Linked DNA regions of Homo sapiens. The protein of the gene in region 2 purifies or fractionates together with the protein of the main gene of each other region. This does not show direct contact. Each region holds a gene or a part of one and is shown on either strand. Other genes may lie near its edges.

Evidence for each region.
Region 1: the proteins of SGIP1 (region 2) and CRYBG1 purify together in Homo sapiens (affinity purification with mass spectrometry; one large-scale study listed by BioGRID and IntAct). This does not show direct contact.
Region 3: the proteins of SGIP1 (region 2) and REPS1 purify together in Homo sapiens (affinity purification with western blotting, with the first as the bait; one study listed by BioGRID). This does not show direct contact.
Region 4: the proteins of SGIP1 (region 2) and SPAG6 purify together in Homo sapiens (affinity purification with mass spectrometry; one large-scale study listed by BioGRID and IntAct). This does not show direct contact.
Region 5: the proteins of SGIP1 (region 2) and PADI3 purify together in Homo sapiens (affinity purification with mass spectrometry; one large-scale study listed by BioGRID and IntAct). This does not show direct contact.
Region 6: the proteins of SGIP1 (region 2) and RALGAPB purify together in Homo sapiens (affinity purification with mass spectrometry; one large-scale study listed by BioGRID and IntAct). This does not show direct contact.
Region 7: the proteins of SGIP1 (region 2) and RALGAPA1 purify together in Homo sapiens (affinity purification with mass spectrometry; one large-scale study listed by BioGRID and IntAct). This does not show direct contact.

What each region holds. Positions count from the first base shown.
Region 1 is NC_000006.12:106,366,588-106,370,954, forward strand, and holds part of CRYBG1 (beta/gamma crystallin domain-containing protein 1), read left to right. Parts: intron 1-4,367. UniProt on the Homo sapiens protein: May function as suppressor of malignant melanoma. It may exert its effects through interactions with the cytoskeleton.
Region 2 is NC_000001.11:66,732,631-66,736,997, forward strand, and holds part of SGIP1 (SH3-containing GRB2-like protein 3-interacting protein 1), read left to right. Parts: intron 1-1,117; coding exon 1,118-1,250; intron 1,251-4,367.
Region 3 is NC_000006.12:138,978,075-138,982,441, reverse strand, and holds part of REPS1 (ralBP1-associated Eps domain-containing protein 1), read left to right. Parts: intron 1-4,367. UniProt on the Homo sapiens protein: May coordinate the cellular actions of activated EGF receptors and Ral-GTPases.
Region 4 is NC_000010.11:22,343,669-22,348,824, forward strand, and holds the start of SPAG6 (sperm-associated antigen 6), read left to right. Parts: upstream 1-1,827; 5' UTR 1,828-1,943; coding exon 1,944-1,968; exon of another isoform or gene 1,969-2,054; coding exon 2,055-2,150; intron 2,151-4,348; exon of another isoform or gene 4,349-4,465; intron 4,466-5,156. UniProt on the Homo sapiens protein: Important for structural integrity of the central apparatus in the sperm tail and for flagellar motility.
Region 5 is NC_000001.11:17,255,178-17,259,544, forward strand, and holds part of PADI3 (protein-arginine deiminase type-3), read left to right. Parts: intron 1-2,068; exon of another isoform or gene 2,069-3,821; intron 3,822-4,367. UniProt on the Homo sapiens protein: Catalyzes the deimination of arginine residues of proteins.
Region 6 is NC_000020.11:38,548,994-38,553,360, forward strand, and holds part of RALGAPB (ral GTPase-activating protein subunit beta), read left to right. Parts: intron 1-2,077; coding exon 2,078-2,230; intron 2,231-4,367. UniProt on the Homo sapiens protein: Non-catalytic subunit of the heterodimeric RalGAP1 and RalGAP2 complexes which act as GTPase activators for the Ras-like small GTPases RALA and RALB.
Region 7 is NC_000014.9:35,798,879-35,803,245, reverse strand, and holds part of RALGAPA1 (ral GTPase-activating protein subunit alpha-1), read left to right. Parts: intron 1-4,367. UniProt on the Homo sapiens protein: Catalytic subunit of the heterodimeric RalGAP1 complex which acts as a GTPase activator for the Ras-like small GTPases RALA and RALB.

The DNA.
Region 1 (4,367 bases), on a different chromosome or scaffold from region 2:
CTTTGGTGTTGGGCAGACTTAGTTTCAAATCTGCCTCTGCCATTGGGATAGATTTTTAACCTCTTTAAGTCTCAGTTTCTTCACCTGTAAAATGGAGGCAATTACACTTCTCTTATGGAGCTGTAGGAGGATTGGATGTTATCTATGTAAAGCACCCAGCACAGGGCTTGGCTCAAAGCAAGTGCTGGATAGAGGAAAGGTGGTGGTCAGTAGCAGGGGCAATACTGGCAGTGATAGTTGTAATTATTGTTGTCTTTATAGTAATGGTAGTAGTATTAATACATACATTGTTACTTTGTGAGTGGAGTAAAAACTTCAGAGGCCCAGAAGTCGTAACCAGGTCTGTTAAGCTTTGAAGTACCTTTGAGTATTTGGATGTTCATGTTGGTCTCTAAAAGGGAGACCCTTCATGCGCTCTCAGTGCCTTAAAAGTCTTAATATATCTCACTGAGGAAGCCAAGGCTAAACTTTCTACTTGACATTACAGGAGTTTTTCCCAAAGGGATTTTGGAGTCTGAGTTTAGCATACGATAATCATTTGCCACTTATCTCTGTCATTGAATTACTTTATCCCCCCTCTATTTCCACACTTTCCATCACAATCTACTCTCCATAATCAAGTGGCAGTGACATAAACCCTTTTGGGGACCTTTAGTAAGACCTTCGAAACTTGAGTTCACTTCTTTTTTCTTCTTTAGCTCTTTTTTAAAAAAATATTGGGCCAGGTGTGGTGGCTCACACCTGTAATCCCAGCACTTTGGGAGGCCAAAGTGGGCGGATCACAAGGTCAGGAGATCCAGACCATCCTGGTCAACATGGTGAAACCCCGTCTCTACTAAAAATACAAAGATTAGCTGGGCGTGGTGGCATACGCCTGTAATCCCGTCTACTTGGGAGGTTGAGGCAGGAGAATCACTTGAACCAGGGAGTCAGAGGTTGCAGTGAGCCAAGATTGTGCCACCGTACTCCAGCCTGGCAACAGAGCCAGACTCTGTCTAAAAAAAAAAAAAAAAAAAAATCAAATACATATATACTCCCTTTTTCATTAATAGTTTTGCCAGAATGTATGGCTTTTGATTATAAATCTTATTTTTAGGTCAGCATGGTGGCTCATGCCTGTAATCCCAGCACTTTGGGATGCTGAGACAGGAGGATTGCTTGAGCCTAGGAGTTCAAGACAGCCTAGGCAACAAACTCAGACCCTGCTTATCCAAAAAAAAAAAAAAAAAATTAGCCAGGTGTGGTGGCACACACCTGTGGTCTCAGCTACTGGGGAGGCTGAAGTGGGAGGATCATTTGAGCCCAGGAGTTATGATCATGCTACTGCACTCTAGCCTGGGTGACAGAGTGAGACCTTGTCTCTAAAATAATCGTAATAATAAATGAGTACATCTTTTTTGTAAGCTGAGATAGTGAGTTGCTGCTGTAGTATTTGTCCACAATTAAAACAATGTAGTAAACATATTAGATATTGAAATAGTTTCTAATTCCTAATAGTCATTCAAAATACATATCTTACTATGAACATTAAAAATACATATCTGAGCCAGGCATGGTGGCTCACACCTATAATCCCAGCACTTTGGGAGGTGGAGGCAGGTGGATCACTTACTTGAGGCCAGGAGTTTGAGAGCAACCTGGTCAACATAGCGAGATCCCATCTCTTAAAAAAGATACATACACACACATACACACACACACACACACATCTGTCTTAAAGTTTGAGTTCAGCTAAGGGGTCAGTTATGTTTCAGGAATGTCCATGCAGAAGAAAAGTGATTTATGTATTGAAAATCTGTGTCTGGTCAACATGAGAAGATCGTTTGAAGCTTGAATGGTGTGTTCTTCTGTCTACCTTGAAAAACTTGTCCCAAAGTGAGTTTTCAAGATACAGGATGTATGACTGTCTAATGCTTGTGAGGAGCTTAGCAAGAATGACCAGCGAATTGCTTATGAGTCTCATTAGCTCATTTACAGTTGCCTTAAAACATAGCTGCATTGGGCTAACCCAAATGCCTCATCAACATACCTGTACAGATTCAAATATATGAGAAGTCTTCCCTCTAGAGAGTGAGCCCTTGCTTAGTGCTGCCTTTACAGCACTGTGCATCTTCTGGATTGTTCCGTTCAGTGGAAGAGAAGCAATGACCCCTCATAACAGAGACCTAGATTGAGTTGCTAATTATTCAGCCAGTATACAGTATATACTATAGTGTGGTTACTGAGATACTGAATAGTTTAAGAGTTTCTGCCATAATTAGTACCTCACCTACTACTTAAAAAAAAATAAACAACCATAACTTAATTCATGTTTTCAAAAAAAATTTAAAGCTTGAAGGAACCATATTTGTAACAACAAAATGTCACTTAAAATGATGGAGCCTATCAATATATTGTTACCTATGCAAGAACTCCCTTTACAGAGCTTGAAGTAATGCTAGTAATGTGACACATAATATATTTTATTCATGATTTGTCATTTAAATGTGTTCAGAATACTGATGGATTCATAAATATCTCATGAAAGCATACATTTTGACAAAGTACCAGGAGGCCCAAGGACATACAAATGGGGCAGAGAATCAGAATCCATTTGCAGTGTCCCCGACCTCTCTCACTGGCATGTTATAGACAAGTAAAGGTTGCACCCATAGCTAACACACACAAAAAGAAACACAATTAACAAGTACCTTTTGTTTGTTACCTTCTCATAAATGGCAATTAAATGAGTAAAAGTAGGTTGGTGTTAAGCTTGGCAAAAGATACTGTGGGGAAGAAAGTTGGCTGCTGGTTGTGTTTATTGTTTGTGCCATTTCAAGCTAGCAACCCTAACTGAGTCTCAGTCATTAGAATTTAGGTTTATTCCAAAGGTAATATCGACAGCTCAAATATGAGATTTGGCCAACAGTTACATAAAGTCACCATGCAGAGTACACCTCTTAATTTTTTTCAAATTTGTTTATAAGTAGTAGCATAAGCTCATGATAGTCTTTGGATTCGTTTTTTAATCTTATGATTAGGATCAAGGGTCAAAATAATATATGCTGCATATAAGATAAGAAAATAGAGGAAGCATGTGCTTTATAATAACTTCAGACCATGTCTGTGAAAACATTGTTTCCCATCAATATTTGATTGAGAGATGCAGTTTATTCAATATGCACTATGTATCAGACACTGTTCTAAGTGCTTTACAAATATTAACCCACTACAGTTAATTTATAACTTTCCTCAGAGGTAGGCACTATTATTAGTCCCATATTGAGGAAAAATCAGGCACAGAGGGGTATGATTATTTGGTCAAAGTCACAGAGCTCATTAAGAGTGAGGCTGGGATTCCCCAGCCGGTGATCTTGAGTCCTTGTGGTTAATCACTGCAGGTAAATCCCTGCAAGTTAATCACTGTGGTTAATGGTGCTTTCTTTATATTCTTATATGAGTTCATTTAGCCTCTAGATCTCACAAGTAGAAATTAAAATACATATGATAAATTAAGTTTTGGTACTAGACAATTTCTACGTTAAATAGTGGAAAGAAATATGTTAATTAATAGAAATATAAGTTCATTAAAATCTTAGATGAAAAAAGATTTTAAAACAGAAATTCAAAAGTATATATTATAAATGAAAGTATCATGTGTAGATTCTGAGTTTGGGGCTTCTGCCCAAGCTGTGTCAGAAAAAAGCATTACCAAGAGGTGGACCTACTTCGTACCCCTTCTTCTGCCCTGACACAGGCAGGAGAATGCAAGGTCAGAGATAAGTGGTAGATGGGGGGCCCTCTAGTTGCTGCCCATGCTAAAGAGGCATGGCAGAATTTCTCAAGTAGTTGCTTTACCAGTTGCTGCAGAAAGCTGCTCCTGGCTGCTCTAACTTTAGGCCTCTAGAAGCCCTGCTGCTTGAATCCATTGGTTTTACCTCCTGACTTATTCTTGAGGATTCCCTGGCAATGAATACAGGTTCCACCTTACATTGACCTTACACTTCAAGGATTGTAAACCATTGCTGATACTTTATCCCACTTGAGGCTTATAAGGGTTCTGTGAAATAAGCCCATACCCTCATTCTGAGGATAAGGAAACTGAAGTTCATGGAAGGTAATGCAGGTGGAGGAAGCAGGACTAAAACTCAGATTTTCTGATTTTTTCTTAGCTGTTCTTTTGGGTTCTCTTGCATTGTGTACTATACCTTCACTCCTGGCCTGTACCCACCTTTGACAGGAGCCCAACTGACTCATCTGACTTCCTGATGACTATTCCCCTGGAAATCTTCCCTTAGTTTCATAAACTAACAACGATGAGACTGTCTGATCCCTAGATTGAGTGACTAGTTATTCAGCCAGCACCTATAGTCTGGTTATTGACATAC
Region 2 (4,367 bases):
ATTTATGAGACTTCTGGAGGCTGAATCATAGCAACTTACTTTTGACCTGTCTTTTCACTTTTTCACTGTATCAGCCTTCTCTCTTCTCAACCCCTAATTTTCTCTCTTTTTTTTTTAACAAGTTTGCTCATCTTTAAAAACAAAGACAATAATTCTTCCTTTGCAGGGTAGATTTTAATGAAATAGTTTATAATGCCTAGCATATAATAGGTGGTTAAGAAACTGTAACTACTGTTATTGCACTATATAGGATATTCTGAAAGTGAACTGTCAGCAAATGTGTGTGACAAGTAACTGAATCACTTGTGGCCTCAGCTTCCTCATTATACGGGAAATGAGTTATATGTTTGTACACTCTTGCCTGATTCTTTTTATCATTGAGATGAGCATTTGCAAGATAGATTGGGTAAGTGGTCTGTATACAGGCCTCTGAGCAAAGCTAAGACTCTCATAGGGATATAAAACTTCTTAGCTTATAGAGACTCTGCTCTTCTTCTGTATTATAACTACCAAAATTATCATTTAAACTCCAGGATCATCTTATAAGTGAAGTGAAATCTTTGATGATTTAAATGCTCATGGATGAAATATTATGAATGCTGAAAAGGCAGCATGGTAATTTTAGTATCACTCTTTTCTGCTTAGTTGGTGATAAAGACCATGTTTACATTTGGCCAAATATTTCACTGGATAATTTCTGAGAAACTACTGGTCAAAGTAATTCAAAAGTAAATAAACGTATTCAGTTCCTTAATTGCCTTAACTGACTAATTTAGACAAAGCTGGTTTCATAGAAAGGGATATTAAGTTTGAGTTAATAAATAATTCACTCTTTAAAGCTCCCAATTATCATCGCAATTAGTTAATATTACTGAGCACTCACTGAGATTGATAGCAACACAGTAGCTCCTCCTCGTGGATATTAATCTACCAACACCATAGCATTCAGAACTGTATTTGTATGAAAACCACACTACTGTTAATAGATTCATAATAATCTCTACAAATTGTCAAAAAATGGCTGTACATATCAGACGACAATTTGCTAAGATGCTTCGTGTAGGGTTTATATTTGTTTTAAGATGCTACTCAATCATTTTTCTTCCCAAATGAACAGTGATAATACACAAAATGATGCCAATACCAAGGAATTCTGGGTAAACATGCCAAATTTGATGACTCACCTAAAGAAAGTGTCTGAACAAAAACCCCAGGCTACATATTATAACGTTGACATGCTCAAATATCAGGTAAGCCTATTTACATGATCGGTATCTCTTCCACATGACATATTTGTTTTCTAAAGTACCTACTATTGAATAAAAGTAACTAAAGTAACACTTCTTTTAACAGTATTTAAAAGCTATAACTCATTTTTTTAAATGGAAACTTTAAAAGATAACTTGGGGACTACTGACAAAAATATTCATACATATTCTTATTAGTTTAAGCTTACAAGTAAAATATTTTATCACAAAATTAGAGAAATGTGCCACAAAAAAATGAAGTTGCAAAACATTATACTAATTAAGATTATAAGTTTATATTGATAAACAAGATGATTATAATTTTGTTAAGAACATTACTATACTAAAACCTCTTATTTTAAATGATTCAAGGTACACAATCTGCTTTTGTTTTTCTAGTAAGATAGTCCTATGAAAGAATTCTAATAAAATCTAACACTAAGAAATAGTTCAATAATAAAGGAATGTTTGATACTTACAATATATGAGAACTTTCTTTTTGTATCTAGAATTGCCCTTATCTCAAATTATTATTGATATACTAAATAAGCCTAATTCATACCAGGATCCTGATAGTGCCTGAGTCTCTCATTGGTTCCCAGCCACTTGACTGCCTAGATTTTTTTGGTTTTTTTTTTTTTTTTTGAGACAGAGTCTCACCCTATCACCCAGGCTGGAGTGCAGTGGCACAATCTTGGCTCACTGCAATGTCCACCTCCTGTGTTCAAGCGATTCTCCTGCCTCAGCCTCCTGAGTAGCTAGGAATACAGGCATGCACCACCAAGCCCTGCTAATTTTTTGTATTTTTAATAGAGACGGGATTTCACCCTGTTGGCTATGCTGGTCTGGAACTCCTGACCTCAGGTGATCCGCCCGCATCAGCCTCCTAAAGTGCTGGGATTACAGGCATGAGCCACCACACCAGCTGACTCCCTAGATTTTTTTAAACTTTTTTATTTTTTAAATTGACAGGTACAATTGTATGTCTGTATTAGGTACAACATGATATTTTGAATATATGTACGTTATGGAATGACTAAACTAACATACGTATTACCTCACATAGTTATTTTTGTGATGAGAACACTTTCCATTCACTTTAGCATTTTTCAGGAATACAGTATATGGTTATTACCTACAGTCACCACCTTATGCAATCAATCTCTTGAATTTATTCCTCTCATCTAACTGAAATTTTGTGTCTTTTGACCAACATCTCTCTAAACAAACCCCCACCCCACCCCACCACCACTACCTCAGCCTCTGGTAACCACCATTCTACTCTCTAATTCTATAAGATCAACTTTTATTTTTATGTTATTTTATTTTATTTTATTTTATTTTATTTAGTTTTTTGAGATGAAGTCTCCCTCTGTTGCCCAAGCTGGAGTGCAGTGGCACGATCTCGGCTAATAGCAACATCCACATCCTGGGTTCAAGCGATCCTCCTGCCTCAGCCTCCCAAGTAGCTGGGATTACAGGCATGCACCATCATCCTGGCTAATTTTTGTATTTTCGATAGAGACGGGGTTTCACCATGTTGGCCAGGCTGGTCTTGAACTCCCAGCCTCAGATGATCCCCGTTCCTTGGCCTCCCAAAGTGCCACTGTGCCCAGCCAAGATCAACTTTTAAATATTCCACATAAGAGTGAGATCGTGTGGGCCGGGCGCGGTGGCTCACGCCTGTAATCCCAGCACTTTGGGAGGCCGAGGCGGGTGGATCATGAGGTCAGGAGATCGAGACCATCCTGGCTAACAAGGTGAAACCCCGTCTCTACTAAAAATACAAAAAATTAGCCGGGCGCGGTGGCGGGCGCCTGTAGTCCCAGCTACTCGGGAGGCTGAGGCGGGAGAATGGCGTGAACCCGGGAGGCGGAGCTTGCAGTGAGCTGAGATTGCGCCACTGCAGTCCGCAGTCCGGCCTGGGCGACAGAGCGAGACTCCGTCTCAAAAAAAAAAAAAAAAAAAAAAAAAAAAAGAGTGAGATCGTGTGGTATTGGTCTTTCTGTGCCTGGCTCATTTCATTTACCACGTTTTTAATGCATTATAATTTTTTATTAAATATGTTCAGATTATTTTTCTTCAAATGAAGGAAGTTGTACTTTAATAAAAATCAGGACATCTCAAACTTGACTGTATTTCTCAATCAAATGCTGGTTCTGAATTGATGCTAAAAAGAAATATATGTGTATACATATTTAAATAATATAAATATTTATTTATAATATTTACATATACAACCTAGATACATATAAAACCTATACAATCTATAACATATAAAATAACACATTATATTCATAAATATAAATATTTATACAAATATTTTAAATATAAATATTTATACAAATATTTTAAATATAAATATTTATACAAATATTTTAAATATAAATATTTATACAAATAGTTTAAAATATTATATAAAATATGCAAATATATAAATATGATATATGTGAATATAATACGATATATTATATGTGAATATAATATGATATATGTGAATATAATATATAATATATGTGAATATATTATATGTGAATATAATATATTGCGTATTATATGTGAATATAATATATTGCGTATTATATGTGAATATAATATATTGCGTATTATATGTGAATATAATATATTGCGTATTATATGTGAATATAATATATTGCGTATTATATGTGAATATAATATATTGCGTATTATATGTGAATATAATATATTGCGTATTATATGTGAATATAATATATTGCGTATTATATGTGAATATAATATATTGCGTATTATATGTAAATATAGGTAGAGATCATTATTAAATATACATATATGTATTTTGGGGGGTGTTAGGACCTAGCAGATATATATATTAAATATACTTTTTAAATTTTATTTAATTGGTTTAGAATGCCACCCAGGTATCTGTACTTTGTATAAGTTTCTCAAGGGAGTCTATGCATCCTCTGCTTTGGAAAACATTTATTTAAATTGTTGTAAGAAAACCATTTAAAGTGAAATATCTATAAAATGGTGTATTTTCCAGAAATGCAAAAGAATATAATTTTTTCTTGTGAGAATAGTATATACTCTTCAAACATTATGGATAATACTGAAAAAATATATAATATGGCATAAATT
Region 3 (4,367 bases), on a different chromosome or scaffold from region 2:
TGCATAATAGATTGATAAAGGGTTCTAGTACTAACTGTTCTTTCATTGAGGTTTGTAAGCAATGTACCCTGTTAATGAAGCTGAAAATCTTTAGATCATTTGTGTAGAGCAATATCTTGTTAGAATATTTGCATAACACATAAATTTAATGGGGAAAAGCAATAACAGTGAAACAAACCATTTTGTTTTTGTCTTGAAACTTGTTTAAATCAATTACAAGATCTGGCATTAGTGATAAGTTTAAAAATAGGAAAGCAGAGCTCATTTCTGTGTTGAAAGTTATAAACTTAATAAGTCTCAGGTTTGTTATTCTGGAGTAGTGGTTTTTAGTTCTGAATCACTAAAATAATTGTAATAAACTACAGAAATAATCTTGCCATAATCACTTACCTATACACAGTTGAAAAAGATACTGTTTGTGAAAGAAGTCACAGTCAATGTGTTTCTGTAGTGTCCTATTTATTTACTTTTAAAATTTCTGTCTTCTTGAGTTTCTTGTGCTAGTTTCAGTCATTTTGTTTGTTTGTTTGTTTGTTTTAATCAATAGCCCAGAGTTAGAGTTTTAGTATATTGGGAATTCGTGCCAAACATTTGATGGAGCGACACAAGAGCATGAGAAGCTGGTATAAAGAGCACTAACTGTGGGAGGCAAGTTCCAGTTCTGGCATCAGCTAACTTTGTAACCCTGAACAAATCACAGAATGTCTGATATAGCTATGGGATTGGGTTTTCATGATTTCTGACTCAAATGAGAGTATCTTTGTGTAGGAGCGGCTAATCTATTCCAGCCACACCCCTTTAAAAGTAGCACAAAGTCTTGTGGTTAGTTGCTCCACTATCTTGACACTGGAACAGGATTATTTGACATTCTTTGAGGAATACAAAGAGGAGATATATACAAGAGGAAACTGATGAAAGGGTCATAAATCCATGGGTGCTTAGTTCTTCAAGGTCGTGAGAATTTGAAATGGGTGATAAGACTTGTCATTTCTGATGTTTTCCCTTATATAGGTTTTATTTTCTGTAGCCTTTCCTATTATAGATGCATCTTCACTCATCTTTTCCCTCTGTGTAAGAAATTTGTCTAATGGAAGTTAAACTGTATACCAGATTTCATTGAGATTTGATAAATTCTAAGACTTAGGCTTTTTAAAATTAAGAATACTACATCTCTTCTGCATTTTGTTTCAAGAATTAGCCAGGTGTTGAATTTGGGGTCTGTCTCATTAAATAATGAAGACAGAATTTATTAGTCTGTCTCTTTTGGGCTGTTGATTCCGTTGAGATTCTGCTGCACGCACTGGACATCTGCTTAGAAAACATAGTTCCACAGAATTTTGCACTTAATTTGTGATTTCCAGCCTTCCCCTAATTGAGTCAAGCTCATCTTATGGACTTCTACATTAATTCAGTTTTAAGGAAGAGCAGGCTGACCTGTGAAATGCTAAACACTTCTGTCTTAAATCAGTTTTAAATACTTTCAACAAAGACTTCTTTGTGGCTGTTCTTTGTATTGGGGGTATACATGCAGTGGTGAAGGATCAAGACATCTTCTCTGACTTGTGCCAATGTCGAAAAGAAAAAGAACTGGCCAGGCGTGGTGGCCTGCACCTGTAGTCCCAGCTACTTGAGAGGCAGAGGCAGGAGGATCACTTGAGCCTGGGAAGTTGAGGCTGCAATGAGACATAGTAAACATAGTAGTGTCATTGCACTCCAGCCTGGGTGACAGAGCAAGTCTCCGTTCCCCCCCCCCCCCGCCCCACCCACAAAAAAAAAAGGAAAAAAGAACTGTGTACAATAATAGAGAATCATTGGGTGGTAGAATCAGAGGAGGTAGTGGGGACCTACTTAGGTGTAAGGGAAGGCCCCTTAGAGGATGCCTGGATGGGGGGTCAGGGGAGGGAGAATAAGGTGTTTCATATAGAGAGAACTGGGAAGGGCCTGAGGCTGTGAAGAGCACAGTGTGTTTAAGGAACTGAAACTGTGGACAAGAGGGGAGAATGGCAGGGACTGCATAAGGCAGGCCCTTGTACTCAGTGATAAGGAATTTGGATTTTAGTGGAAATATACTAAAAGTTTTTATTCGGGGGTGTAGCATCATCTGAATTATATTTTAAAAGATCATGCTGACTGCTGTATGAGCAAAAAGAATACTGGGGGCAAGTGGAAGCAGATACGCTAGTGGATATGCAACAGTCCAGGCAGCAGACAGCAATGGCTTAGATTAGCGAGGTGGCAGTAGGATAGAGAGCAGTGGACATCTGTGAGAATTTTTTAGGTGGTAGAAATACGAAGGCATAAATAGGGTTGGATATGGAACATAAGGGAGGGGAAAGAACTCAAGGATGTTGCTGGAAGTTGCCACTATTGGATGGTTGGAAGAGGAGTGGATTTTGGGGGGGATTGTTTCGTGGGAGAGGTAAGGGTGAATTCAGCAGTTCCCCTTTTGTCTATCTTAGTTCTCAGAAGCCTGTAAGATTGTCAAGTAGGCCTGTTAGAGAGATCTATACATCTTGAGGAATTCAGAGATACTTGGCTTAGAGATGTCAGTTTGAAGATTGTCACTATGTTAGTGATACTTAAGGTAATGAAATAATTGAAGAAAAGATTATAAAGAAGAGAGAAAGATTGACTAGAACTGGAATCCTGAGGAATGCTGAACATTTCTAAGTTGGGTAAACTGGAAGGCTTCTTGGAAGGACGCTAGGAAGCACACAATCAGAGTGGTACAAATTGGGAATGTGTAATATATAGTATTATCATGTCGTGGATGCCAAATAATGCAAGTATTTCAAGGGGGTGGGTAGTCAGCTGTATTGAATTTCACTGAGAGGCTGAGAACATGTGGGCAGGAATGTGGCCATTGGATTTGGCAACCTGGAAGTTATTAGTAACTTCAGTGAGCCAGTTTCATGGACTAGTGTAGATGGATGCCAGATTTGAGTGATTTGAGGGATAAATGATGGCTGAGGAACTAGAGACAGGGTGTATAGATAGCTTTTAAAGAAGTTTACCTATGAAAGGGAATAGATACAGGGTAGAAGCTAGAGATGTATGAGGATATAAAGGAAATCTTTTTGTTTGTTTCTTTTTGAGTGTGAGAAATTCTGCAGAATGATTTTAGTTGTTAGGATTGCTAAGATAAGGGAGATGAGAAGTCCTTGAGAAAGCAGGAGTGGTCAGGATCCTGACTGCACAGAGTCCTTTGATAGGAAGGGGATACTTCTTCAGTTTTTTTTTTTTGTTTTTTTTTTTTTTTTTGTGATGGATTCTCGCTCTGTCGCCCAGGCTGGAGTGCAATGGCCTGGTCTTGGCTCACTGCAACCTCCGCCTCCCGGGTTGAAGCGATTCTCCTGCCTCAGCCATCAGAGTTGCTGGGATTACAGGTGCCTACCACCACGCCTGGCTGATTTTTGTCTTCTTAGTAGAGACAGGGTTTCACCATGTTGGCCAGGCTGGTCTCGAACTGCTGATCTCGTGATCTGCCTGCCTTGGCCTCCCAAAGTGCTGGGATTACAGGCATGAGCCACCGTGCCCGGCCACTTCCTCAGTTTTAACAGTGGGGAAGAAAGAACAACATGGTTACAGACGCAAGTAGGAATATAGATTTAGTGGGTGGAATATAGATTTAGTGGGAGGATGTTCTGGCCTAATGGCTTTTATTTGTTTTCTACAAACTGAGGCAGGATTAACAGTGTAGTAGTAACATAAAATCTTAATATGAAAGTAAGAAAAAAATACATTCACATTAGCTTCAAAGAGGCCTAACATACTTGGGAATAAACTTAAGAAAAGAGTCACCAAGATTTTTGTATTTAAAACTACAAAACAGGGCTGGGCACAGTGACTTATGCCTGTAATCCTAGCACTTTGTGAGGTTGAGGCGGGCAGATCACTTGAGCCCGGGAGTTTGAGACCAGTCTGGGCAACATAGGGAGACCCCTGCCTGTAAAAAAAAAAGATAAAATAAATTAGCTGGGTATAGTGGTGTGCACCTGTGGTCCCAGCTACTTGGGAGGCTGAGGCAGGAGGATGGTTTAAGCCTGGGAGGCAGAGGTCAGGGAGGCAGAGGTCAGAGAGACCCGAGATTGCGCCAATGGACTCCAGCCTGGGCAACAGAGCCAGACCCTGTCTCAAAAAAAAAAAAAGAAAAGGAAAAGAAACAAATAATTGGGCTTTATTAAATATTTTTAAAACTTTTACAATTGAGAAGATACTTAAGAAAGTATAAAAAGATAAGCCACAGATTGGGGAGAAATATTTGCATATTATAAACATGGTAAAGGTCTTTAATCTAGAATATATTTGAAAAATCTTACAACTCACTTATAAGGAAAAAAAAAAAACTGGGCGAAAGCCCATTCTTA
Region 4 (5,156 bases), on a different chromosome or scaffold from region 2:
GATATGAAGTAGGCATCCTATATTATGTTTTATCAGGAATAATACAATTTAACTAAAAGATATTGTTAATAACAGATACTCAGACTCTAAAGTAATTTACATAGCTTTTGAACGTATGTTTTCAAAGAACTTAGTAGCATCCCATACTGTGTTATGTTTATAGGTTTAGACCTCTCCCCCTCTATTGAGCTCTTAACACTTTTAAAATGGAAAACAAATAGTAAAGCAGTTGCTAAAAATGGCAGTTGGAGTAGCTTAAGAGTTTGAATTGTTTGTTTAAGGACTGAAACCAAATATAAAAACTTTTAAGGGGATTTTTTTTCATCATTCAACAAGGAACTGAAAATTACAAGGCTTATTTGCAATCTTAATTATTTACTCAATCTGTTTCCTCCCACGTCTCTAAATGGGAACGCATAACTTTAATTTTAAAGGACATATTCCCATAGGGAAATATAGATATCACTGTAAAACTTACGACTTTGAATTAAGTAAAAAGATTGTGGCCATCACTGGCTTTTGAGCTGCAGAAGCAGAAGACATGTACCTGCCCTTCGGGGGTATTAGGGACCCGACTAAACACACTTATTCTTCTCTCTGATTGCTGGACCATTCCCCAACTATTTGGAGCTCCACAAAGTATCAGGACTTCATCAAGAGCTCAGTGAAGGGTGAGATCTCAAAGATAAATATAGAGGACTCATTCCAAATATAGAACCAGTTAAGTTTGCATGCTCCCTTCTGTTGAAGAAATATCAAGGGGTTTCCTGTCTTGGCACTACTTAGCAGCAGCTGCGGCTATGTATCCACTTGACATCTGGTGAAATTGTAGTTTTTGATGGAGGAACATTTAAAGTTGACAACTGTCATTGAAACAACTGGTATATAGTTTTCAAAGACAAGCTAGAAACCAGTAATAGACTAAGTACTTCAATTTTGTTAAAAGAAACTGGGTAAAGGGTTCAAGTTATATAAGATAGGGAAGTCTGGTTTTCCAGGTAAAGGTTCTCTCTCTTTTTCTGTTGGAGATGTCATTCATCAACATAACGAAGCCTAAATTTAAAAGACTAAGACAAAATATTTACAAATCACATAAAAGTGAGGAAACAGCAAAATTAGTAGTCATTAGGAGAAAGCCAGGGAAGACAGGACATTCATCACATCCTTTCCTCATCTGCTTTCCTCACTGAGTCTCTGAGTGCTCATTAAATGCTTTCAATACAGTGTAATTAAGTGTGTGAACATGGTTGTCATGCTCCTCCAGGAATCTTGAAACCAGGAATGCCAGGTATATAACAGCGGGTTACAAAAGAAAACACGGATTCCTAAATCAGTGTTTTACTGTCAGTGCAGTGTTAAATGTCAATGCAACACTTAAGTTGCATTGACATTCATGTGTTGATCGGATTGTACAATGTGACGTGTGAGATTTCTCGGGACCGTCGAAGCTCAGACAACTCCAGGGCTGCAATTTACTCGTCTGGCTGCCCTCGAACCAGGCTCCCTTGGCGCGTGGGGCTCTCCCGGCGCTTGGTCCCGACCCGCGCCGCAGTCAGGATACCACGGCAATCTGGGGTCGCTTTGTAAGGAGCTCCGACCTCCGGGCAGTGCAGGGATACTCGACGGCGCGCGATGTCCCGGCGGCTCCGCGAGCCTGGCGCGCTGAGAGCCCCAGCAGTCCGAGTCCTCGAGCTCGGGCGTCTTCGCGCCGCCGCCCCGCTCAGTGCGCCCAGGCACCGCGGCCGTGACGTCACGCCCGGGACTGGCCGTTGCAGCAAGACGGCCGCGTTCCGGTTCCGGTAGGTTGCCCGGGAGACGCGGGTACACAGAGAAGCGGCTCCCGTCGGAGGCCGAGTCGTCGCCACGATCGCCCCCTTGGTGGACTCGCAGGCCGAGCGGCTTCCCCGCAGAGCTCGAGGAGGGCAGACGGCGGCGGGGGCGCCATGAGTCAGAGGCAGGTGCTGCAAGGTAGGGCCGAGGCGGGCAGGTGCCCTAACTAGCTGGCGCCGAGGAGACCCGGGTGCGGTGGGCTCCACCGACTCTCTCTCCCGCAGTGTTCGAGCAATACCAGAAGGCCAGGACCCAGTTCGTGCAGATGGTGGCGGAGCTGGCGACTAGACCCCAAAACATCGAGACGCTGCAGAACGCGGGTGAGCCCGGAGCCCGAACCCCCGTCGCCCCCCGCGCACTGAGTCCCCGACGCCTCCGCCCCGCTGCCCTGCCCGTGGAGCTCTTGGGGAGCCGCAGTGTGGGGACCGGAGTTCGCAAAAGCATCCATTCTTTTCAGCGGGTCTTTGGGGGTCAGGCCGAGAGGGTGAAGCTTCCAGATGGTTGTGGGAGGTGCGCGTTGTCCCTGTTTCCATCTTCATTGCACACAGGCAAGTGTCAGGTTGAAAGTCGAGGCCCTAGGAATTGCCTGGAGTCATTTTACGTGAATGGGACTCTACCCTAATGAGACCCATTTTATCCAAGTGCCATTTTGCATGCCACCCTGCCTTTGATCACCTTCGACTTCCTCACAGCAAAGCAATTCCAGTGGTTTAGACGTGATTTCTCGTCTTGCTTTAGTGAAAGGGGAATGATATGCTTGAATCTTTTCCAAGAAATTCCAAGTAGGTAGAGACCAGACTTTGCGAAATCCTTATGGCGCGTTCCTTCTACTCCTCAGTCCGGACTCTTGCAGATGTGAGAGGGGGAGAGAGGGGGAGAGGGAGGGAGAGAGATCTTCTTATCTCATAACATAAACTGATAAGAGAAAATGGTTCTTCTTCTTCTTCTTCTTCTTCTTCTTCTTCTTCTTCTTCTTCTTCTTCTTCTTCTTCTTCTTCTTTCTTCTTCTTCTTCCTCTTCTTCTTCTTCTTTTCTTCTTTCTTCTTTCTTCTTCTTTTTTTTTGGATGATTCTACCACCATCTGAACTGTAAGGTAGCATTTTATCACTACTGTGTCATGAGAAATCTTCAGTTTATAGGATGTGATCTTTAAAACTAACACATAATTTAAACAATTAACATGTTGACAGCAAGAATACTTAAGTGTAATGATTACTCTGGGTTTCTTTGAGGGGAATTACTACTGCACCTATGTGATACTTCGTTTTGTCACTAGGATTTTTGGCATTTATTCCTTGTGTGTTTTTATTGGGGGGCATGTATTTACAATAAAGTATATTTTATAATCTTCTAAACGCATTTTAGTTTGAAATAATTGTAGATTCACAACTGTAAGGGATAATACAGAGAGATCCCGTGTACCCTTTTCTCAGTTTCCCCAATGGTAACATTTTTCAAAACTGTAGTGCAATATCACAAGGAGGACATTGACATTGATAAAAATTCGTTGATCTTATATAGGTTTCCTCCTTTTAATTGTTCGTGTGTGTGTGTGTTTTGTCCTATAGAATTTTATTCCGTGCGTATCCACCACCAGCACAGTCAAGATACAGAACACTTTCATTGTCACAAGGATCCTCTCTCTTGCCCTTTTATAGCCACACACACCTCCTGCTATCCCTAACCCTGGACAACCACTAATCTCTTCTCCATTTCTAAAATTTTGTCATTTCAGAATTGATAATCCTTTGTTCTATAGTTGTTTTATATGGGTTGATTTTCTGTATTCTGTGTGTGTGTATGCACCCGTACTCCTCCAAGTACCCAGAACAATACTGGGCACACAGTATTTCATATACACAGACTAACACAGACTAAGGTATTAGAACATGTTACATTTTAGAAGTGTATTTAAAAGTAATTTTAAAGTGTAAACTTTTAAAGTTTTTTCTCTCAGTCCCTCTCAATGACCTTTGTGAATGGACATTTACTACTTAACAAAGATTTAGTTTCTGGACAATATGAATATAGCCAAACTAAAACTTTTAAAATGGGAAAATAATTGATATTATTTTCAAATTTTAATACTGAGATGTTAAAGTATACATAACTTTTAAGATACGGAGTATCATGTTTTAGTGAGTAGTGGCAGGTTAGCTCCTCCCATAAGAGTGCAATGTAGACTTCACAATGGAACTTAATCCAAATTGACTGTATAAGTGGCTTAGATATAAGATTCTACACTTATGGTCTGGCTTAGGAAAGATGAATACGAAAGGAATATAACTTTATGTTTTGAAATTCTCTGCACTTGACTAATATCTGGGTAGCATGCTAAAATGTTTCTTTTCCTGAGGGACTTATTTTTAACAAATTTCATGTTATCGAGATTCAATTCAAGCATTCCTTTAGCAATTTTAAATACAGACATAATGAATATTCAATGTATTTATTCTTTTGATTAAAAAAGAACCTGTAAACTTTGTTATGAAAACTTTTCTTTCTTTCTTTGAGACAGAGTCTTGCTCTGTTGCCAGGCTAGAGTGCAGTGGCATGATCTCGGCTCACTACAACCTCCGCCTCCCAGGTTCAAGCGATTCTCCTGCCTCAGCCTCCTGAGTAGCTGAGACTACAGGTGTGCGCCACCATGCCCAGCTAATTTTTGTACTTTTAGTAGAGACGGGGTTCCAGCATGTTGGCCAGGATGGTCTCGATCACTTGACCTTGTGATCCACCCGCCTTGGCCTCCCAAAGCACTGGGATTGCGCCCGGCCAGTTTTCTTTCTTAATAGTCAGTTTACTTAACCATTCAAATGATTTGTTCTTTTAAAAAATTACAATTTTAAAAAAGGGCTTTAGAATGAGCCTCAGTATGTGTAAATCAATTATACATTATGGTCAAACTTTTTTTCAGTCAAATGCCTTCATTTGGTAGCTTCAGATACCAATGCATATTACTCCTGACTTTGACATACTGTCTACATACCTGGAAGATTTTGTTTGTTTTCTCATTTTTCCCTCCAATATGCTAAGTAAATATATATCATGGATCCAAGATAATGTAAAAAATATTTTCCATATGGGTATCATGATCAAACCAGTAATTCCCTTGTTAAGAATTTTTGAATTTATTCTATGTGAAAGGAATATTAAAGGTGAAAATTGTCAATGGAGTTTTTATTTCATTTTAAGTCTCCAATCTTTTTTATTGTGTTTTTTATACACTAATAAGAGAATTTGCTTTATTAAATATGTCCAAAGTAATTGCCAAAGCAGACAAAGTATGTTGCAAGATCTTTTCTTCAGAGTTATTTGGAAAAGATTAA
Region 5 (4,367 bases), about 49 Mb from region 2:
AGGCCAACTGTTCCTGTTTGTCTGGGACCTTGCAGGTTTTAGCACAGCAAATTCTGTATCCAGGAACAGCCTTAGTCCCAGCAAACTGATGCTGTTGGCCACCCTACCACATTTTACCCCCAACTCACCATCTTAGGCTGGCTGTGCCAGAGGAGCAGTTGAGTTCTCCGGCTGGCTTGGGGGGTGTGGGGCTGGGAGAGCCCTGGACAGGCCTGTGCATGGAAGCCTCAGCGGCGAGGGTCCAAGGCCCTGAGCCCAGGACTGGACCAGAAGCACTGCCTAGAAAGCCCAGAAGCCAGCATGTGACAGCTCAGCCATGCTGGCAGCTCGAGGTGGCCTGGAGAGGAAGGACTTTGTCCAGGTGAGGCTCCAGGTACTTCCCCTGTTCTCTAGGAAATGGGAAGCTAGATCCTCCCGTACCTGATGCAGGTTCTCCTCCCAGCAGCTGCCCCTCTCATTCTCCTAACACACAGCTTTCATGACAGGCATGAGCACTGGACTGGAAGTCAGCAGCCCTACCTTCTAGTCACTTATCTTCTGGGCCTCAGTTTCCCCATCAGTGAAATGAGGGCATGACTTTTGCTCATCCTGAGTGCTTTACCCACACTGGTTCCTTTCATCTTCTCCTCATCCCCACCAGATAGATGTCGATGCTGCGGCTGAGGGAGGCAGTCACTCGCTCAAAGTCACACACCTAATGAGTGGTGGGACTGGGATTTGAACCCAGTTGTCTGGCCCCAGGGACCACAGGCTCAAGTACCTTGCCACGGCTCCATCATGTTGCCCCTCCTGATCAAGAACCAGCGCTGGCTCCCCATTACATAGGGATGAAATGAAAACAAGCTCATTATAGCCTGAGTCTAAACTAGACCTCTTAAGGTTCCACGGTGAAAACACCTTCCCCTCACTTGTGTCTCCTCTTGGTGCCTTCCCTGGGGAACCTGCCCCAGCCACCCAGCCCACTGTCTCATCCTGCCTCCAGACCCGTTTCCTGCACCCTCATTTACTTTAATAACTCCTTCCCTGTCCTGGGCCAATGGTGTTGCAAGCCTTTCCTGTCTATTATCACACTTGAGTTTCATGATTGCCCATGAGGTTGGCCAAGTAGGTGTCATTATCCCACTTTAAGGTGAGGTTAATGGGCCCAGAGAGACTAAGTGATTTAGTCAAGCTCAGCTGGCCGATGTGTGACCCAGCCTGGTCTAAAACCTAATTCTTGACTCTGGTCCCAGCACCACCTGAGCCCTCGGCTTGCAGCCCCTCCCTTCCCCAACCTCAGATGTAGCTTGTTCACCTGTGCTAAGCCCTTGTTCAGACCGTGGTCCTGGGGACCCTCCTGGGCAGGGGTGCTTCAGTCTTCACTGGGGATCCCCCAGCATCTCACACAGAGCCTGGCACATGGAGAGGCAGGGGCGCTGGGCTGAAACACCCTACACCCAGGGGCTGGAGCCTGGGGACTGAGTGGGGTTTTCATACCAGAAGGACCATCAAGGGCGCTCAGCCCTTGCCCATGGACACTGGAGGCCCAAGGAACAGCTTTGGGGTTGAGGGAGTTCCATAAAAAGTGTACAGGCTTCAGCCAGGCGCGGTGGCTCGCGCCTGTAATCCCAGCTGGGAGGCTGAGGCAGGCGGATCACTTGAGGTCAGGAGTTCAAGACCAGTCTGGCCAATATGGTGAAACCCTGTTTCTACTGAAAATACAAAAATTAGCCGGACACGGTGGTGGGCTGTGTTGTCCCAGCTGCTTGGGAGGCTGAGGCATGAGAATTGCTTGAACCCGGGAGGTGGAGGTTGCAGTGAGCCAAGATTGCACCACTGCACTCCAGCCTGGGCGACAGAGCAAGACTCTGTCTCAAAAAAAAAAAAAAAAAAAAAAAAAAAAGGCTTCCTTGGGAGATGGAAGGCGAGTGCCTCAGGAGCGTGGCTGAGGGTGTTCCCGAGGGTATGAGAGGCTGCTCTTCCTACCTGGGTTTGTCTTCCTGTGTCTCTTTCCGACTCCCTGTCTCTGACTCTCCATCTCGCTGGGTCTCTCCAAGTCTCTCTGTCCCTATCTCTCTGTCTCTGTGTCTTCATGCCTCTCTCCCTGGTTCTGCCATTTCCCCTGTGGGGGGCTGCCCAGGGCCAAACAGGCCAGAGGGCTCCACCAGCCCTGGAAATTACAGGCTTTGGGAGTAGGGTTGCCAGATAAAATAAAAGATGCCTAGTTAAAATTGAATTTCAGGTAAATAATTAATAATTTTTTTAGTATAAGTGTATCCCAAATACTTCACGGGAGTACCAAACAATGATTGACTGTTCACTTGAAATTCAAGTCCAACTGAGCTTTCTGTATTTTTATTTGCTAAGTCTGGCAGCCCTGCTTAGGAGGAGAAACAGGTGTGTCTGTCCCTCCCAACTGGTGAGGACACCTGACAGGGGCCCAGACACCAGAGTGGGACCTGCCTGATGGAGAGAAGCTTGGGCTTGGTTTATTTCCCTTTTCATAAAAAAGCTGCTTTGAGATGTAAGAGAATCATGTTGGTGGAAGAGTGAAGAGGTTGTTTTGGGGGAGGTCTGCCTTACTCTGAGGGAAGATGGGAAGCGGGGGGAGTGGCCAGCTGTGGAAATTTGGGGTAGTCCCCTACGTATCCTGTGCCTCAGTTTCCCCATGTGTAAACAGGAGTAATTATCTCATCCTGGGGCTGCAGTGAGGATCAGATGAGCTAATGTACAAAAAGGCTTAGGCAGGCCTGCCGTGATAAGAGTGCAGAGGCTGGGGGCTTTTTATGTTATGGTATTGTTGTTATTATTACTCCTGGGGAGGTGGTGGGCAAGAGTGTGGACTGAGGAGCCACATGGCTGGGTTTGGATCCCAGCCCGGCCACAGACCTTGGGCAAGTTACTTAACCTCGGCTTTCTCATCTGTATAATGGGAGACAATAATAGATAGTGCCTCCCTTCTAGGGTTATTGAGAGGATTGCATGATGGGCTGGCACACAGCATGAGCTCAGTAAGTGTCAGTCACTGTTATCCCCCAGGGGCATGCATGCCGCTGCCTCCAGGAGGCCCTCCAACTCGCAGTGGCCTCTCCCTACATGGGTTCCCACTGAGCTGTGATCCTGTGGCCTTGAGCCCCATCTGGCTGCCCTGGACAATGTTGGTCCTCAGCTCCCCAGCGGGATCAACAGTGGGGAGAGCAGTGGGTGGATCTGCCCGCCAGGCAGTACCTGAGTGCACAGTGGGCACCCCACAGTCAAAGGATGCATAGTCTGGTTTCCAAGGAGGAACCCCAGGCTAGGTGGAATGAGGGAAATGCAATCTCAGGGCCAGATAACATCACAGATACTTTAAACCTGCAATTAATTTCTGGTTGTTTGACCAAATCCGGCCAAGTTTCCCGGGTGACACTGCAGAGCTGTGGAACAGCATGGGCTTGGAGTCAGACCTGTTGCACATCTGGCTCTGCCATGTGATGCAACCTCAGGCTTGTCACGAGGCCTCCTTGAGCCTCAGTTGCTAATATGCCAAATGGGGATGATATTGCTCACCTTACAGCTTGTAAGAGTGGAGGGAGCTGCGTGCGCCAGGTGCCTGGCATGCAGCGGGCACTCAACCAGATTGAATTCCCTTCCCAGGGAAGAATTCAAGGATATCTTCCCACCCACTAAGGAGACATGTGATGGGATCTGGGGTGAGAATTGCTCTTTTTAAAGCTCTCAGAACTGTAAGGGGCTCCACCCACCAATGGCTGGTGTTCACTGAGCTCTTCGTGCCCAGACCTGCACTGGGGATTTATCGAGCACATGGCTGGCTTCTGACTTCCGAAGAGCTCGCCATTCTGGTGAGTGGTAAAGAAACTCACAAGGGAAATGTTAATGAACACAGGGGCTTAGAACATCAGACTGTGTGTATGTTTTTTTGTTTTGTTTTGAAACAGGGTCTTGCTCTGTCGCCCAGGCTGGAGTGCAGTGGTGCAATCTTGGCTCACTGCAACCTCTGCCTCCTGGGTTCAAGCGATTCTCCTGCCTCAGCCTCCCCAGTAGCTGGGATTACAGGCATATGCTACCACGCCTGGCTATTTTCTTGTATTTTTAGTAGAGACAGGGTTTCACCATGTTGGCCAGGCTCGACCTCAAGTGATCCGCCCGCCTCGGCTTCCCAAAGTGCCTGACCTCAAGTGATCCATCCGCCTCGGCTTCCCAAAGTGCTGGGATTAAAGGAGTGAGTCACCACGCCCGGCCGACTGTGTATATGTTTGTGTGGGGTCCAGGCTTGACTCGCAGGAGCTTACTGTGAGGATCTGAGGGGACTGGGTGGCCAAGGAAAGCTTCCTGGAGGAAGCAGGGCTTGAGCCAAAGCTCAAACATCTGAGCAAAATATATCTCCT
Region 6 (4,367 bases), on a different chromosome or scaffold from region 2:
GGTGTCTTTTCAAAAAGCTTTCCAGGTGATTCTGACATCTACTTAGGAGTAATTGCTGTTGTGGACAATGGCCCCAGTTTTTTCCATGTAATTTTACAAATGTAATAAAAGTCAGATATATACCATACGTGAAAAAAATTTGGTGGGACTTTTGATTTGTCCGCAACAGGACTTAGTTTGAAATTGTTTTATATGATTTGTTCTTATATAATAATTGGTAATATATTGTATAAATTTTATTTTTTTTATAAAGAGTCAGGGTCTTGTTCTGTTGCCCAGACTGGAGTGCAGTGGTGTAATCATAGCTCACTGCAGCCTCAAGCTCCTGGGCTCCAGTGATCCTCTTGCCTCATCCTCCTGAGTAGCTGAGACTGTAGGCACATGCCATGGCACCCAGCTCATTTTTAAAATTTTTTGTAGAGATAGGGTCTTGCTTTGTTGCCCAGGCTGATCCCAAACTTCTGTCTTCAAGTGATCTTCCCACCTCAGCTTCCCAAAGTGTTAGGATTACAGATGTGAGCTGTCACACCCAGCCTAATTAAAAAAAAAAAAAAAAATATATATATATATACACACACACACACATACATATACACACACACACACACATATGTATGCTGTGTATAATTTAATGAAATCTTTTGGGGTGCAGTTTATTTTATTACATTTGTAATTATGTGAATAATACTTGAGAAGTTGGAAAAATTCAGATAACGAAGAAATTTTAAATCACCTTTACTCACTATCCAGAGGAATATAACCACTGCTAATATTTTATTGGATTTCCTTCCCTTTTTTTCTTTTCATACACAATAACACTTGAATAGAATTTGAGTCATTTTGTATACTGCTCTTTTCATTTATAACATTGTAAGCTTTTATTTCTGCTATTAAAAATATAAAATGTCCAACAATGATAGACTGGATTAAGAAAATGTGGCACATATACACCATGGAACACTATGCAGCCATAAAAAATGATGAGTTCATGTCCTTTGTAGGGACATGGATGAAATTGGAAATCATCATTCTCAGTAAACTATCGCAAGAACAAAAAACCAAACACCGCATATTCTCACTCATAGGTGGGAATTGAACAGTGGGAACACATGGACACAGGAGGGGGAACATCACACTCTGGGGCCTGTTGTCGGGTAGGGGGAGTGGGGAGGGATAGCAATGGGAGATATACCTAATGCTAGATGACGAGTTAGTGGGTGCAGCGCACCAGCATGTCACATGTATACATATTTAACTAACCTGCACATTATGCACATGTACCCTAAAACTTAAAGTATCATAATAAAAAAATGTGATTAAAAAAAATTTAAAATGTGACTTAATATTTCACTAGCATTTGAGAGACACCACAAAATTGGAGCATGTGCCTAAAATCATTTAATATCTTAGATGTCTCTGTTAGATGTGATGTGTTTATCACCCAGTCCTCCATTTTTTTGGAGGGGGCAGTACAGAGCACATCCTGTCATCAACTCTGTAAGCCAGTAAGTTAGCATTGAAGACTGAAGAGGAAGGGGACCAGGAAAGGAGCTAAAATTTGTTTAGGGTTCACCATGTACCCATATACATATTAAAGCATGGATTTGGAGCTGTGAAGACCTAGATTTGGTGCCCATACTCTCAATTAAGCCGTATTAAGATTCTTGTTAAAATCACTTTCTAGAGATGCCCAGTGAAGCCAAACTTGTCTTTAATTATATTGAATGATGTGAGAGCCCCTGGGGAAGAGAGTTTGAGTCTTAAAGCTCCAAAATGCTATACCCATTGGATAACCACTGAATGTGGGAGATTCAGGCCTGCAGCAGTAGAGGTCCACAGCCCATTTGTCAGTCATTAGATCTATAAGAAGTCGATGAATATTTTTAGAAAAATAGAGTACACAGGGGCACAGGCTGCTTCCCTTTGCTGTTATCTGTAGCATTTGCAGGTTCTGAGTGAGTTTTTGTGACATGTAATCCTAGGGAAACACAGGCATCTAAGAGACCAGGGAAATACATGTCATTACAGATGGGTATTGGACCCTGTGTAATAAACATAATGTTACTTGTTTTAACAGCTTTTTGTACCTGAACCTCGCCCAGTTCCTAAAAATGACGTTGGATTTAAATATTCTGTGAAACATCGGCCATTTCCTGAAGAGGTGGACAAGATTCCTTTTGTGAAAGCAGATCTCAGCATTCCAGATTTGCATGAAATAGTCACTGAAGAAGTAAGTACATTATTTTTAGCTGTTGTCAAGGGGATGAATAGAAACATTCTTACGACTTCCTTGGTCAAGACAATGCTTTTAGTGTTGTTGGAGATGATTTTTAAGATGACATGGGCCTCCATCATCCAGGAGGTTGCCATGTTTAAGACGAATATAGATTGTGGCTGATCGAAAGGAACTGCATATCTCTTAGAGGTGTTGCTGGGCTGCCTGGCTGTTCGTGGTAGGTTTCAGTACTGTAGTGACATGATCAGACTCTGGTAGTAGAGTTATTTGGAAAAGGAAGACCAGTTCAGAGACTATTATGAGAATCTAAGTCTTTATAAGAAAGGAAGGACTATTTCACTCATATGGAATTTTAATATATAAAATGTATTGTGGAGGTAGATCCAAGCAGTCTTGAATTGGTGAGGGAAGGAAAAGAGCCAAAGAATTTCAGATTTTGAGCTTGAGTGACAAAGAGATATCAGTGCCATTTACAGAAATGCAGACATTAGGAAGAGGATAGATTTGGGAAGATGGGAAAAATTTATTTGGCTTTGGATTAATTTAGAGAGTTAATTAAGATAACTGTCTCTTAGGTCAAGGGAGAAGAATTTTAAGAAGTCGGGGACAGAAGTATGTCAGGACATGAGAGAACAGAAGAGCAGGAATGGAGGAAGGGCTACACTCTCCAATGCTGGAGAGACCAGGGAGAAGAAGGAATAGAAAAAGTCCCCTGAATTTTGGCATGAAATTTAGGTGACCTTTGAGAACAGGTGTGTACAGTAGGAGGGATAATTCAAAGGGCTGGGGAGTGAATGTATTGAGGGACAGGCAGTGAATAGAAACTACACTGTTAACAGTAAAGGCAAGGGTACAGAATGGGTAATATTATAGCTTAAGGAAATGGCCTCGTTAAGGAAAGAAAAGGCTGATTTTTTTTTTTTTTTCTGAGATGGAGTTTCGCTCTTGTTGCCCAGACTAGAGTACAGTTGTGCATTCTCAGCTCACTGCAATCTCCGCCTCCCGGGTTCAAGTGATTCTCCTACCTCAGCCTCCCAAGTAGCTGTGATTACAGGCGCATGCCACCATGCCTGGCCAATTTTTGTATTTTTAGTAGAGACGGGATTTCACCATGTTGGCCAAGCCGGTCTCGAACTCCTGACCTCAGGTGATCCACCCTCCTTTGCCTCCCCTCAAAGTGCTGAGAATTACAGGTGTAAGCCATCGCACCCGGCCAGAAAAGGCTAGTTTTTAAATATTTTTTTACATTCAAGGATGTGAGGATTATGAACATGCTTATAGATTGAAAGGAAGAAACCAGTAGAGAGGAGTCTGGCTAACACTGTAAGATGGGCAGTGGGACTTACAAGTAATAGAGGCAGTAGGGTCAAGAGTCTAGTCTAGAAAAGAGATGCTTCTAAGACAGAAGGAGAGAGTAGGTGAAGGTTCAGAGACATTTAGAGAGGAAAGGAGGGAAATTGAAGAAGTTTATGAAAATTTTAATCCTGGTTCTTGGCAGTGTAATAGGGGATCCCAGACAGTTCTTAAGAATTGCCAGGCAGTGCAGCTGAGGTTAAGTAGCATTATCTATAGTGAAGTTATTTAACTCACTCTGCTGACTTTCTTCAAAAGTCCTTGGGATCTGGAAGCATAAGTAAAGAATTTGACTGGTGTGGAGATTGACAGGTGTGGAAATTTGGAAGGAGGTTCAACACAGCCATTTAATGTGCTTAAGGAGAGGGTATTTAGCTGTTAGATGTGGGGGCTTCAGTTTAGTTGGGAAGCAGATAAAGCCAGAAGGATGCTAATGGAGTGGGAAAGCAGGGGGAGGGATTGAGTGCCCCACCGCAATAGTAGAGCACGAGCTCAGGAAGTGAAGGGATAGGAGTTGCACAAGGGGGCTTATGATTGGAGAGGGAATTTCAGACTTACAGCCCTGGAAAGCAGGGCACATATCAGGTTCAAGTTTGTTTTCATGGATGGCCAAAATTGTGAAGGTTGAGGAGCTTGTAGAATTCTGAGCCAGGTTGTTAGAAGGATCGTTACTCACCCGGGAATGGAACTTTAAACAAGGATTGATCAGAAGGAAAGGTGGGAGAAGTCTCTAAGAGTACAGTCATGTCATCCATACAGATGAGGAATTAAACACAGG
Region 7 (4,367 bases), on a different chromosome or scaffold from region 2:
ACTGAATTGCCTTTGTACTTTTGCCAAAATTTAGTTTTCCAGAAATATGTGTGGGCCTATTTCTGGACTCTTATTTTGTTCCAGTGATCTGTTTATCTTTGTTGGTGCCAGTACCGCAGTGTTTGATTACTGTAACTTTATAATAAATCTTGAAATCAAGTAGTGTTGTCCCTCCTACTTTGTTCTTCCTTTTCAAAGTTTCTTTTTTTCCCAAATGCCAGGTCCTTTACATTTCCATATGAGTCTAAAGATTAGTTGAGCTTGGTGTGGTGGCTCACACCTGTAATCCCAGCACTTTGGGAGGCTCAGGTGGGCAGATTGCTTGAGCCCAGGAGTTTGAGACCAGCTTGGACAACATGCTGAAACCCCATCTCTCCAAAAAAGAGAAAAAAAAGAAATAGCTGGGCATGGTAGTGTGTGCCTGGGATCCCAGTCACCTGGGAGGCTGAGGTGAGAGGATCACCTGGGCCTGGGAGGTCGAGGTTGCAATGAGCCATGATTGCACCACTGCACTCCAGCCTGGGTGACACAGTGACACTGTATTTTTTTTTTTAAAGGTCAGTTTCTTAAAAAAAAAAAAAACCCACCACCACCAAAAAACCTATTGGGATTTTGGTTGGGATTATGTTGAATCTATAGATCAATTTGGGAAAATTGACGATATTGAATACACTGATTCATGAACAAGGCGTTTCTCCACCTACTTAGGACTTCTTTAATTTCTCTCAGCAGTGTTTTGTAGTTCAGTGTGCAGGTCTTATACATCTTTTGTCAGACTTATACCTAAATACTTTCTACTTTGATCTTTTGTAAATGTTACCTTTATATCTATTTCTGATTGGATCTCATATCAGGAAATACCACTGATTTATGTATAGTGAGCTTATGTCCTACAAACCTGCTGAACTGACTTAGTTCTGTTATTTATTTATTTTTTTGAGACAGAGTCTCACTCTGTTGCCCAGGCTGGAGTGCAGTGGCATGATCTCAGCTCACTGCAACCTCCGCCTCCCAGGTTCAAGCAATTCTCCTGCCTCAGCCTACTGAGTGGCTGGGATTACAGGCACACACCACTGAGCCTGGCTGATTTTTGTGTTTGTAGTAGAGACGGGGTTTCACCATGTTGATAAGGCTGGTCTCGAACTCCTGACCTCGTGAGCCACCTGCCTTGGCCTCCCAAAGTCCTGGGATTACAGGTGTGAGCCACAGCACCCAGCCAGTTCTGTTAGTTTTTTGTAGATTCTTTTGGATATTTTTCATAGAGAATCAGTCTGCAAATACAGTTTTACTTCTTCCTTTCTAATCTGGATGCCCTTTATTTCTTTTTCTTGCCTTACTGAAGTGACTAGAACCTCCAATGTGACATAGATTAGAAGTAATGAGAGTGGGCAGTCTTGTCTTGTTCTTGATCTTAGGGGTAAAGCAATCGATTGATTTTTTTCACTGTATAATATGATCCTAACTGTAGGTTTTTTGTAGATGCCCTTTATCAGATTTAGAGAGTTTCATTCTATTCCTGGTTGGCTGAGGGTTTCTATCAGGAATGGATGTTGGATTTATTGAATGCTTTTTCTGTTTCTGTTGGTATAAACAGAAGATTTCATCTAAGTTGTCAAATTTATAGGTATAAATTGTTGATTATACTCTCTTATTATCCTTTTAATATTATAGGATTCATGTCCAGGCATGGTGGCTCATGCTTATAATCCCAGCACTTTGGGAGGCCAAGGCGGGTGGATCACTAGAGGTCAGGAGTTCGAGACCAGCCTGACCAACATACTGAAACCCTGTGTGAACTAAAAATACAAAAGTAGCTGGACCTTGTGGCGCATGCTTGTAGTCCCAGCTACTAGGGAGGCTGAGGCAGGAGAATCACCTGAACCCAGGAGGCAGAGGTTGCAGTGAGCCAAGATTATGCCACTGTACTCCAGCCAGGGCAACAGAGCGAGACTCTATCTCAAATGTGTGTGTGTGTGTGTGTGTGTGTGTGTGTGTGTGTGTCTGTGTATATATATATAGCAGGACCCATGGTAATGTTATCCTTCTCGTTTCTTGTCTGATAATTTGTCTTTCTTTTCCTGATCAGCCTGACTAGAGTCTTATCGCTTTTATTGATCTTCTAAAAGAACTATCTTTTGGTTTTATTGATTTTTCCGTGTGTGTGTGGTTTTTTTTTTTTTTTTAATTGATGTCTGCTTTGGTCTTTGCTATTTTCTTTTTTATTTTTGGAGGCGGGACGCAGGAGACAGAGTTTCGCTCGTCGCCCAGGCTGGAGTGCAATGGCGCAATCTTGCCTCACTGCAACCTCCGCCTCCCAGGTTCAAGCTGTTCTTCTGCCTCAGCCTCCCGAGTAGCTGGGACTACAGGCATGCGCCACCCCGCCTGGCTAATTTTTGTATTTTTAGTAGAGACAGGTTGTTACCTTGTTGGCCAGGCTGGTCTCAAACTCCTGACCTCAAGTGATCCACCAGCCTGGGCCTCCCAAAGTGCTGGGATTACAGGTGTGAGCTACCATGCCTGGCAGTCTTTGTTACTTTCTTTCTTCTACTTAGTTTAGTTTAATTTGCTCTTTTTGTTGTTTCATAAAGGGAAGCTGTGATTATTGATTTGAAACTGTTCTTCTTTCTACTGTAGGCATTTGGTGATAAAAAATTTTCCCCTAACTAGCATCTCACAACTTAGAATATTTTGTATTTTCATTTTCATTTAGTTCCAAAATACTTTCAACTTTCCTTTTGATTTTTTTTAATCCATGGGTTATTTACAAGTCTGTTCTTTAGCTTCACATATTTATGGATTATTCAGATACCTTTTGGTTGTTGATTTCTAATTCAATTCCATTGTAGTTAGAAAACACTATTTTTTATAACCTGAATTATTTAAAAGCTAATGAAATTTGTTTGATGGTCCAGAGACATTTTAACTTGATAAATTTCTTGTATGCACTTGAAAGGAATATATATTCTGCTCTTGGTAGGTTAGGTGTTCGAAAAATGTCAATTAGGACGAGTTGCTTGTTAGTGTTGTTCAAGTCTTCTCTGTCCTTACTGAATTTCTGTCTAGCTGTTTTCATCAAGTACTGAGAGAAGAGGGCTGAAGTTTCTGACTGTAATTGTGGGTTTTGTCTGTTTTCTTTTGAACTTCTATCAGTATTTACTTCATATGTTTTGAAGCTCTGTCATTAGCTGCCTAAACCTTTAGGATTATTTCTTTTTGATGAATTGACTTCTTTATCATTTTGAAATGATATCTTTCTCCCTGGTAATAGTCTTTGCTTTGGAATCTACTTTGATATTAATATAGCCATTGCCACTTTTCATTTGATTAGTGTTAGCAGGATATATATATATTCCCATCTTTTAAATCTACTTGTGTTTTTATATGTGAAGTGGGTTTATATTGTTGGCAGCATATGGTTGGGTCTTTTTTATCTAACCTAATTATCTATGCCTTTTAATTGAGATGTTTGGATAGTTACATTTAACATGATTGTTGATATGGTTAGGTTTGAGTTTGTCATCTTTCTATTTGTTTTCTGTTTGGCCTGTCTGTTCCTTAGTACCCTTTTTTCTCCCTTCTTTTGAATTAGTTGAGTAAATTTTATGATTATTTTCCCTCGATTTATTATTTCAGTGACTGCTTTATGATTTATAGTATATACCTTTTTTCTTTTTTTTTTTTTCTGGGACCGAGTCTCGCTCTGTTGCCCAGGCTGGAGTGCAGTGGTACGATCTTGGCTCACTGCAACCTCCGCCTCTCAGGTTAGAGCGATTCTCCTGCCTCAGCTTCCCAAGTAGCTGGGATTACAGGCACGCATTGCCACGCCCAGCTTATTTTTGTATTTTTAGTAGAGACAGGGTTTCCCCATGTTGGCCAGGCTGGTCTCGAACTTCTGACCTCAGGTGATCCACCTGCCTCAGCCTCCTGAAGTGTTGGGATTACATGGGTGAGCCACTGTGCCCAGCCTATAGTATACATCTTTAACTTGCCAGAGTGTACACCTTTAAGTGATACTATACCACTTCCCATGTAGTATAAGAACCTTGTAAGAATTTACTTCCATTTCTTCACCCAACCTTTATGCTTTTGTTGTCATATATTTTACTTATCATGTTATCAGCCATACACTATATTATTTTGTTTAAACAAGTAGTGATCTTTTAAAGATTTTTAAGTAATAAAAAGTCTCATACCCATGTAGTACCATTTACAGTGCTCTTCATTTCTTTGTGTACTTTTTTTTTTTTTTTTTTGACACAGACAGCTGTGTTGCCCAGGCTGGAGTGCAGTGGTGCAATCTTGGCTCACTACTACTTCCACCTCCTTGGTTCAAGCGATTCTTTTGCCTCAGTCTGCAAAATAGCTGG